Linked DNA regions of Homo sapiens: region 1 is linked to region 2. The links come from fine-mapping of genetic effects on gene expression. A gene starts in region 2. The other region holds a variant in brackets. All regions are shown on one strand. Distances are from middle to middle. Region 1 overlaps VAC14 (VAC14 component of PIKFYVE complex). Region 2 holds the start of VAC14 (VAC14 component of PIKFYVE complex).

Region 1 (5,000 bases), 110 kb after region 2:
CGCTGTGATAAGAGCCTCTCCCAGCCCGGGAGGGTGCAGAGGAGACAGCTGCTAGAGTGGAACCTGGAACTCCTGAACAGGGGAGTTCCATTTAGGACAGAAAGGCGAGGAACAGGGAAGAGCCTGGTGTCCTTTGTGCGCCAAATCCTGCTTCACCACAACCAGGCTCTGTGCACAGGAAGCCAGGTGCAGGGGGGGAGGGCGTGTGGTGCTGTGAGCTGCGGCTGTGCTGGCCCAGCAGACAGACTTTCCTTGACTGCACACCCAGTGGGGACCTGGAGGTCACCGTGGACTTCCTCGCAGAGGTGGACAAGCTGGTGCAGCTGATTGAGTGCCCCATCTTCACATGTAAGAACCACCTCCCACCACACCTCGCGCCATGAGTCCAAGGCTGCCCTGGAGTGGGGTGGGTGAAGTCAAGCTCCAGTTGGTCTCTTTTGGCTGGGGAGGGAGGAAGAGCAGTCACCCCAGGGAAGCTTCTGGAATGTTGAGAATGTGAGACTTATAATCCCAGCACTTTGGAGGCTGAGGCTGGAGCATCTCTTAACGGCAGGAGTTCGAGACCAGCCTGGGCACCATAGTGAGATCTCATCTGCACAAAATTTTTTAAAAATTAGCCAGGCATGAGAGTGCATGCCTATAGTCACCACTACTCAGAAGGCTGAGGTAGGAGGATCACTTGAGCCCAGGAGGTTGAGACTACAGTGATCTGTGACTGTACCACTGCACTCCAGCCTGGGTGACAGAGCAAGACCCTGCCTCAGAAAAAAAAAAAAAAAAAAGACTGGGATGATAGGCCTGCAAGGCCAGCCAGAGCAGGGCTGGGGCACGTGGCATCAGAACCTGGATCCTGCCTGTATCCCTCACAGTGAGTCTCCTGGACATGAGCCAGCGCTGACAGCAGAACCCCCTTGAAGGCTGATACCAGGCCCCTGGGCTGTCCCCAGCCACCCCTCCGGGTCTGCTGCCTCTGCTCTGGCTCTCTGAAGTTGTGGGTCCCGAGTCCCTCTGCAGGTGCTCCTGTTGGCCCAAGAGCCATGCCTGTACCTCTCTGAAAGAAGAGTTGGCATTTGCTGGGAGCCAGTGGGCAGGAGCTGCCTGCTTAGTAACACCCAGGCTGAATGTGCAAAAGTGGCAGCTGGCTGGGGCGAGCACAGCTCTCAGCACCTCAACATACACACTTTGAATGACGCTTATGTGCTTATAATGTGCAGAGAAGCCAGGAGGCCACTCTGCTGGTGGCCACCTTCCCTGCCAAGCTGGCCACCCGGCCTCTCCCACTCTCTGGCAGCGTCTCTGACCCGCCCGGCCTAAGCCCATCAGCCTGAGCCCTGGAGCCTGAATTGAATGCAGGGGCTGAAGAACACCCGTTCCCATCCCCTCCTGAGCCCCCTTCAAAGGGCAGCCTCATCAAGCAGCAGGGTGCCGTAGGAACTGATGCCCTGGAGACAGAAGAGCAGGGGGGAGACCCTGCTCTCCGCAGAGTGCGCTAAAGCCTGTCCCAGGTGTGCCCAGCGTGACACTTCCCCGAGGGCCTCCCAGGGACACAGGCACCCACACGGCCGCCTGAGGTCAGATCCTAAAAAGACCCTGCTCCTGCTGCTGGTCTGTCCTGACTCATCTCTCCAGTTGTACATTCTTGGCATTCCAGAAGCATCCCTAGGATGACTGCCCTCCCTCCCTGACCCTGGAGGAACTCCAAGCACCTTCTCCTCAAGCCCAGGGCTTTGCTGGGGCAGGGTAACAGGAGAGACACACCCTGGTCTCGCCCAACACCGTCCCAGCCCTGAGTCGCCTGGATCCTAGAGGTGGCTGGTGTGGCCACCGGCAGTGCCTGCTTCCCAAAGGCCCAAAGGGAAGAAAGGACTGGAAACAGGCTCGCGCTTCTGCTGGGCAGCCAGGCCTAGGACAGTGGTGGTGGGGGTCTCTTCTGGAGGGCGCCAGCAGGCCTCCATTCCTCTGCTCCCTGCGCACCAACACCCTGGCCCTAAGGCCTGGTGCTCAGGTTCCCTTTGTCAGCGGGACCCCCTGTGTGGCCGCTCCAGGGGTGACATAGTCCCTCTCCCAAAGCACATGGCATATCCTCCACAAACAATGCCTGGACTGGGCCTAGGGACACAAGGAAGTAGAAGCCAGTGATTCTCCTGGAGAGGCTCGCAGAAGAAAAGTGAGCCCGTTTCCAATCCCACCTCCCCTGTGCGCCTTGGGGAAGCTGGGACTGCCTTGTGGTACAGCCAGCCACCAGCGGGGTCCGTGCTGCAGCTTGGGCTGGAATGAGTGCTGGGCAGCCCCCCGGGTGCATCTCTTTCCCCCGCCAGGGTGGTGGCAGGGCTGGCATGTGAGCCGGAGCCCCAGAAGCACCTCCCAGACGCTCCGGGGCTTTGGTGTGTGTCTCGCTACACACAAAGGCGTTTTTCCATCCTGCCCTCTCTTAAAGCTGTCCTAATCTACCGTCTTTCTCTCCAGCACACCCTATTTATAGCTCTCCCGTGCTGGCACGTGTGGAGCCAACTGGAGAATATGTTACACTACAGGCCCCGAGCCCTCGTATCACCAGGGAGGCAGCTGAGCGGGGGGCGGGAAACAGACCAGGCCCCACAGCGTGTCTCGGGGTTGTGGGGCTGAGGTGACTGTTGGAAAGATCAGACAGGCAGGTGGGCAGGTGGAAAGGAAGATGAGATCATGGAAACGGCTAGGACACTCCTGGGGGAGGTGGGGGCAGCGCGACTGGCTGTGAAGGAGCCCCTGACTCGCTGGAAGCCACAGCCACCTGGCTGGGTCCACACAGCTGGGTCCTTGGGCTGTGGGTGCCATGGCACCAAGTCCCAGGTGGTCCTGGCCAGTCGGAGGCAGGCAGTGTGGGCTGGGCGTGTCCCAGAGCAGTGCCAGGTCCCTGACCCCTGCCCTCTGCCTACCCCAGATCTGCGCCTGCAGCTGCTGGACGTGAAGAACAACCCCTACCTGATCAAGGCCCTCTACGGCCTGCTCATGCTCCTGCC[G/T]CAGAGCAGCGCCTTCCAGCTGCTCTCGCACCGGCTCCAGTGCGTGCCCAACCCTGAGCTGCTGCAGACCGAGTGAGTGCCGGCTGGGGACTGCTGCCCCCGCCCCCTGAGCAGGGACAGGCCCAGAGGAGCCTGGTGAGGAAGGGCCTTGCCAGGGGCTGCTGAGGCCTCCCTCACTTCAGCATCCCACCCCTTTTGTCACTGTGACCACCATCCCCCCCGCAGCCACTTGCCCCTTGGCCTCTTGTGTCCACATCAGAGCACCGAGCAAGGGATTCTGGGAGCCCTCACACGGTGGCCGGGAGTAGCAACACTTCCAGGCAATCAGGGTCCAGCTCAGTGAGGCTATGCAAAATCTAAAAACTCTGAGGGCATCTGGAGTTACCCAGACAGAGGACCCTGGAGAGAAACACCGGGCAGGGGGAGGAGTTCCTGCCCCAGCTTAGAGATGGGGGCCCCAGTGGCTGTCTGTGCTGGGCACCTCCCAGGCCTCACATAGCCCCTCCCCACCCTGTCTGTGGCAGAGGCTCAACCCTGGGTCACTGGGAGACCCCATCATTGCTAGGACCTTCTCAGCCACTTCCGGGGTGGGGTGGGAGGCAGGGGTACACTCAAGGCTCCCCTGCTCAGGTCCTGCCCATGGAAGGAACAGGTCCTAGGCACCCCTCCACCAAGAGGCCCAGCTTGGCAGCCTCTGGTCAGAGGAGTGCCGGCTCCCACCCTGAACCCACGGCTGGCCCCTACCCCAGAGCCTGTAGGGCTGCATCTATATTTGGTAACCCTTGGAGGCTTTGCCTCATCCACAGGCATTTGGCATCCGAGATGGAAAATTTCACTTGTCAGGTCGCCATGGAAACCAGCAGAGCCACTGAGAAGATTTACGCTGAATGGAGCGCGCCCAGCTTGCATCAGATGCCCTGTGTGTCTAGAATTCCCTCCCAGGCTGTTAGAGCCACTCAGCAGGCCTGGCGCCTTGCTCCAGCAAAGGGCCTCGGGTGCTCGCCTTTGCGATGGACACAGGCAGCCTTGAGACAGGCCTGCCCGGAGGCCCTGTGCCCTCCACACCGCTGGCATCGGCTCCCACTGCCCCTCCCACCCAGACTGGCCCTCGGATGGCTGAGTGTGGGGCACCTGATAGGCTCTCTGCCCCAGGCCAGCTGGAGAGGCTGAACCCCTAGAAAGTGTGGCCCCAACCAAGACCGGCTCGTGCCTTCCCTGCCCCATTTCCCCAGAAGGCAGTGCCCTGCAGTGGCAGGACTAGGCCTTGAGCCGGTTGCCACCCCAGCTGCTCAGGGTGCTGCCAGGTGGTCCCCAGAAGACAGCACCTGATGCAGTGTCCCCAGGGGAGCAGGGTCAGCCATGGAGCGGGGGCGCATGTGTGGGTTCCTGGGGCCGGAGTGCTGTCAGCTCCCGAGAGACTCCGAGAGAGGCCTAGAAGCCACACCGGGCCTTGCTGGCCCAGCCTTTGCCTTGGCCCTTCAACGCCCCATAGTGTTAGGGTCAACCTGGCAGGCACCCAGGAGGGGAAGGTGCAGCCGGAAGCAGGGAGGAGGCAGGAAGGGCTGCTTCCCTGTGACCTCCAGTCTCCCTGTGGGAACCAGCCTGCCTTCCTGGGAGTCCTCCTGGCCAGGGAGCCAGCCCAGCCTCTCCCGGGTCTCCGAGTGCTGATCTCCTCGTCTTGGGAGGGGAGCAGAGGCTCAGAGCAGTCAGACTCCTCAAACCAGGGTAGAACAAGTTTGCAGAGGGAAGCTGGGAAAATGAGGCTTTCCTCAGAATCTCCCACGGTCAGTCAGGGAAGTCTTGAGCCAAGGGGTTGAGGCCTCTGGGTAGAAGATTCTGAGGGTCAGTGGATGCTTTGCAGGCCTAGAGTAGGATCTGGTGTGAGCTCTGCCATGGATTTGTTGTGTGACCTCCAGCAAGCCCAGTGCCCTCTCTGGGTTCTTGGTTACTTGGTCAGTAAATGCACATTTGGACTAAATGGGTGTGTGAGACACCCCCTAG
Region 2 (5,469 bases):
TTGAGGGTCTCCTCCCATCTCATCACTCAGTGACCTTTGATCATCACTTTCTCTGCTGCATCCCCACTGTCTCTGTGCATTGGTCTGTTACTGCACAGTGGGCACACAAACGTGTTGGTCCTATAACACCACTGAGTCTAGGGTCCAAATCCTCCTAGCCCCTGAGAGAGGAGGAAGTTCCTTCTCCCTGGGACCAAGAGCCAAGCTCAGATCCTGCCCCAGTGTGAACCCTCTTCCAGGCTGGTTTGAGATTGGGTGCATTTCTTCCCTTTAGGTTTTTCTCGTGCTTCCTTAGCCTCAAACAATAACAAAATAGTCTTATATTAGCAAATTTGGAATGGCAAAGTAGCTTAACAGCAGGCTTGATGAAAATAACCCTTCCAACACATGCTTGTGGAAGTTACATTGGAGAATCCATTCTCAGCAAAGCAGACCAGGAGACTTCTAACTGGGGGATGTTCAGAAAATGTCAGGGTAGCTGTGTGGCAGAACTCCAAGGAGCACTGTGCACAGAATACCATGGGAATGGGGCTCCCTGGCCTCGTTCCACACTGGGCCCCCAGTGAGTGTGGCATGCTAAGTCTAACCACTTCTTTAGGAGCCTCAAGTCAGAGGTGACAATACTGTAACATTGGTGAGGGCCTGCTACATTTCAAGACCTCTACCTAATACCTTAAACCCTGTTGCCCTGAAACTCCAGCTACAATTACATTGCTGTTGGAGAAACTGCTTTGCACAGTTCAAGATTTTGGTACAATTTCTTACAATGTCATCAGCAGCCTCTTGCTACAAGTTATGTCATAACTTTTACATACTTGTAATAGCTATTATGAATAGTTGTTACAGAACTATTACAAGTTCTAGCATAACAACCAAGCATCACACAGATGCAGATGAATTGTAACTGTGAAATAATGACTAGTATGCAGTCAGGCACATCAGTTATCCCCTAGTCTAGAAGAGTTTCAACAGGAATGGTCACAGGTCAGAGAAGAGGAACAAGGGTGGAAGGCAAGGGTAGCCTTTGGGCTTTATTTTTACCACCACTGCTAGCTCAATTATGCATAAATAATCTTACCTAGTTGGCATTTTTCAAGATATTAGAGAAAAGAACCACTTCTTTCTAGGAACTTCTGACCTAAAGGTAGGCATTGGTCTGGGCCTTGAATAAAAAACTGGTTACTTAGCAACCTGAGCCAGAATATAATTTCAGGAGAAAAGAATACTTCTGGTAAAAAAAAAATTCCTTATTGTTTGAATTATTAAAAACTGTATCATTACCCTTGGGAAATTCAGTTCACCTCTAAGAAAAAGCCAAACCAAAAAGCAAAAGAAACATGAAATATATTAGATATGCGTCCCGTGGAAATGCACACACATTGGAGAAATAGAACCAAATCATTCCCATTGATTTACATTTTTTCAGTGTTTTTCATCAACCATCATCAAAATCCTAAAACCAAACTTTGCAAGACATTTGGAGATGTCCTTGGCAGCACTACTACTACTTGTTAGCGCACCTACCTTCATTCATAGGATTGTGTCAGCAAAGGTTTTAACAACTATGAAAACCCCACCTGTATAGGAGAATACATTTTTTATGGATTTTTCTAGACATGATATATCCATGACTTGCCGAGTTTTGGATTAGCCTTTGTATTCATTTTCTATGGCTGCATAACAAATTACCACAAAACTAGGAGAGCAAAACAACACAAATTTATTATCTCACAGTTTCCATGGGTTGAGAGCCCAGTGTGAACTGGATTCTCAGCTCAGGGTTCCACAAGGCTGAAATCAAGGTGCTGGCCAGCTGCATCCTCATCAGGAGGCTCAACTAGGGAAAGATCTGCTTCCAAGGACCCTCAATGTGTTGGCAAAATTCATTCCTTTGTGGCCATATGACTAAACTCCTTACAGGAGAGTCTCTCTTCCAGTTCAAATTTCTTCTAATCTCTTTTAAGTACTCACTTGATTCGGTCAGGCCGACTCAAGTTAATCTCTCTTTTTATTAATTCAATGTCTGCTGATTAGGGACCTTAATTACATCTGCAAAATCTCTTCTGCGATATTACATAATATAATCATGTGAGTGATGCATAGCCCATCATATTTACAAGTCTTGTTCACGCTGAAAGAGGGCATAATACAGGGCATGAACACGAAGGGGTGGGAATATTGGAGGTCATCCTAGAATTCTGCCTACTTTTGCCCTTTACTCATTGCGTCCCTGTTTCTGTTGAGGAAAATACTCCATTTTCAAGACTGTTATAAGGCCTATATATGCACTTTTCATTCATTAAAGAAAAGTATCACCATGCATTCTGAAACTGTTATTCTTTGAGCTCCACTGTAATCTAGCCCTTGTCCTAAGTCCCTGTTCACTCTGAAAGCTTATGATAGGAAAGGCTGATGCACCTCCCTGTTAACTGCATGTTTACCACACTCCGGCCATAAATTGCTTTTAAATATTTTGCCACATAGTTGGGATTTCTGTCTCACCATGTAATGTGATTCCCGAAGCAGCTGAAGGGGCTGCTTTCCAGGGGACCTATCTAGAGACCCGCACTCAGCAGATCTGGGGCCTTTCTCTCTGTCTGTAACCAGCCCTCCTAGGCATCAGAGCATGTTAAACACACCCCCAAATGGTGGAGTGACAGACACTGGTGGTACCTGAGATCTTAGGTGGTAGACAGGTAGTGCCATTTTTAATTGAGAATTTATTTTGATGTGTCTTAGAAAAAATATACCTATTCAAACTCATGGTTTTAGGGCATAAGCAAAGCTAAAAGAGATTTAAGGTATTTTTTAAAGTGAGTTGATTTGAGGAAAACATTAAATAGATAATACAAGTGGCTAGAATATGGTGAAAGTGATGACAGTGTTACTGCAGTTAGGGAAACGTCTGCATCTAGGAAATTGGTAAGTGACCAACTACTGAATGAACTAGTGAATTCGGTGACTATTGAATAAATTATGTTAAGTGAATCAGACTCCAAGAACCCATTCGGTCTTACGAACGTCTACAGAAGCCCACCACGTGCCATCAGTTGGGCGTGAGCTACACACCCATTAAAGCACGTCTCAAACCACACTCCAGCTACCTGGCGCGCAGCGCGATAGTGTGTGCAGTGTGGGTGGAGCCTTCCGAGGGCGTGGCCAATCCACCTGCGGCCTGCGGTGGGGGCGTGGCTGGAGAGGGGCGGGCCCTCGCGACGGAAGGCGGAAGTGCTGTAGAGTCATGTGACTCGAGTAACATGGCCGCTGTCTCGTGAGTCCCGCTAGTGCCGGGCGGGAGTTGTTAAGCGGCCAGGGTCAGGTGTGCTGGAGCGGGGTCCGGGCCCGGGTTCCAGGGCGAGGCGGCGGAGCGTGGCAGGCAAGCCTAGAGCGGCGTGGTCCATGCGCCGGCGCCGGGGGCAGAGCGGAGCCGCAGACTCCCCTGGCCCCGGCGCGGCCCCGGCAGCCGCGGGCTAAGGAGTCGCGAGGTTCCCCCAGCTGCCACCATGAACCCCGAGAAGGATTTCGCGCCGCTCACGCCTAACATCGTGCGCGCCCTCAATGACAAGCTGTACGAAAAGCGGAAGGTGGCAGCGCTGGAGATCGAGAAGTAAGAGCCGCCAGGACCCCTCCCTGGCTATGCAGCCCCTGACTGCTCTGCTCCCCAGGGGGACTTCTCACGCCTTCCCAGCCAGGGTTACTTTCCCAGGTTTTAGGCCCTTACCTTAGCGCAGTGTTTAAGAGCAGATTGGGAGCCATATCTGGGAGTCCCTGCTTTACTCCTGACTGGCTGTGTGATTTGGTCCCAGCTTTTTAACCTCCCGGTGCCACAAAGGGCTGCAGTGAGAATGAAGTGACATCATGTATGGGTAGTGCTTTGCACAGTGCATGGCACATGGTGAGTCTTCGGTGCGGTGCCACCCAAACCAGCAAATCAGAGAGTTGTCTCTGTGGTGAGAGAGAAGTCAGAAGCCGGAGAATTTGCAGGTGATGCTGACCAGCCTGGTTTCTTACCCAGCTTCTGAGAAGTGAAGGAGATTGTTAGTGACCAAGTAGAGAAATCAGGTCGGAAAACTCGTGATCTCAAGGCTCAGAGAGTTTTTTGTTTTATCTGTGTTATAACACCCTTCCCTGCAAGTGGAAGTAGAAATAATTTGACCTTTCTTGCTTCTGCAGTCTTGTTACATGTATGTGTAACAATGATCTGATATTTTACTTTATTTCCCAATGTACAAAACAGCGAAAGTTTAACTGGGGATGTTTTATTTATTTTTTTTTCTGCAGTATTATTTTACTTTTGTGGGTTTTTTCCCAGTCACATTTTAGTGTTAAAGTCAAGTGAGTGAGTGATTTCAGAAAATTGGAAAGAAGCAGGCTGTGAAACTGGAAGAATACCAGTCTGCGAGTCAGAAAAGGTGAATTGTATTTCTGTTCTGTCCAGTAGAGTAGCCGTTGGCCGTGCGTAGCTATTATAAATTTAAATTATTAAAGATTAAACTTTAGTTTCTCAGTCACACTACCCGTATTTCAAGTGTTCAATAGCCACATGTAGCTATTGGCTGCTATATAGGGCAGCACAGATTATAGACTGTTTCCATCATTGCAGAATGCTCTATTGGACTGCTCTAATCTATTCCGTGGTGTGACATTCATTCGTTAACCTGGGGCAAATTCCTTAACTCAGGGTTTCTCAGCCTCTGCACCATTCACATTTTGGGGCAGATGATTTTTGGTTGTAGTGGGCTGTCCTGTGCCTTGCAGGATTTTTAACAGCGTCTCTGACCTCTTCCCACTGGATGCCAGTAGCACTCCATCCGTTGTAACAATCAAAAATGTCTTCAGACATTGCTAAATGTCCCCTGAAGGAGCAAAATTGCCCCGGTTGACAACTGCTGCTTGCAATCCAAATCAAATGTTGCTTTGGATTTTAGTTTCCTCCTAAACTAAAGGGTTCGGACCTTGATAAGAAATCCCCCACCCTGCCTCCATTCAGCTCTCATACTCAGTATGTCCACAACCATCTAGCTGCTTCTCTCATCAGACACCACTTTCTTGACTGCTCCTTTTATATAGCTTTTTGTTTATGCCTGACTCTCACGAATGCTAGCAAGTCTTATTGCACATTGCCATACTGAATAGAGGGACCCAGAAATGATATATAGGCATGGTTCCGTGTCCATGGGGTTTTGTTGGCTTTGAAGTTGCCTTGACACCTAGTTTTGTCCCTCACCCACTCTGCTTCTCAGGAATATCCGGTTTTATTGTAGCTTGAGTCGTCTGTTGAGTCCTTGAAGAGAGAGGTATTCATCTCAACATTATTGTTGCTTCCAGCGCAACCTGTGTATCTGTTCTCACTCTGCACACAGTTCTGTAAGGGTTTTGTCTTTGATCGAGTTCATTTTGTATTGGACATTGCCCTTGATTTGTGGAATTTAGAGAAACTCAGCAGTGCCTTGACTGTGAACTCCTTAA

Evidence for each region.
Region 1: its variant is fine-mapped to the expression of VAC14 in whole blood (INTERVAL, PIP above 0.99).

Annotation. Positions count from the first base shown.
Region 1 is chr16:70,690,892-70,695,891 of GRCh38, reverse strand. VAC14 (VAC14 component of PIKFYVE complex) reads left to right here. Exons shown (of 19, transcript NM_018052.5): 17 at 269-348; 18 at 2,921-3,071. Among named protein-coding and RNA genes, the nearest start is that of MTSS2, 7.3 kb to the right of the region's middle. RefSeq lists enhancers at 1-400, 401-1,226, 1,227-2,052, 2,053-2,878, 2,879-3,706. The variant G/T (reference allele first, on the strand shown) is at 3,000.
Region 2 is chr16:70,798,935-70,804,403 of GRCh38, reverse strand. It overlaps VAC14 (VAC14 component of PIKFYVE complex), which reads left to right and starts at 3,246. Exons shown (of 19, transcript NM_018052.5): 1 at 3,246-3,607. The coding sequence starts at 3,504. It overlaps HYDIN (HYDIN axonemal central pair apparatus protein), which reads left to right. Exons shown (of 86, transcript NM_001270974.2): 86 at 1-2,320. RefSeq lists enhancers at 3,211-3,270, 2,938-3,560 and a silencer at 3,351-3,540.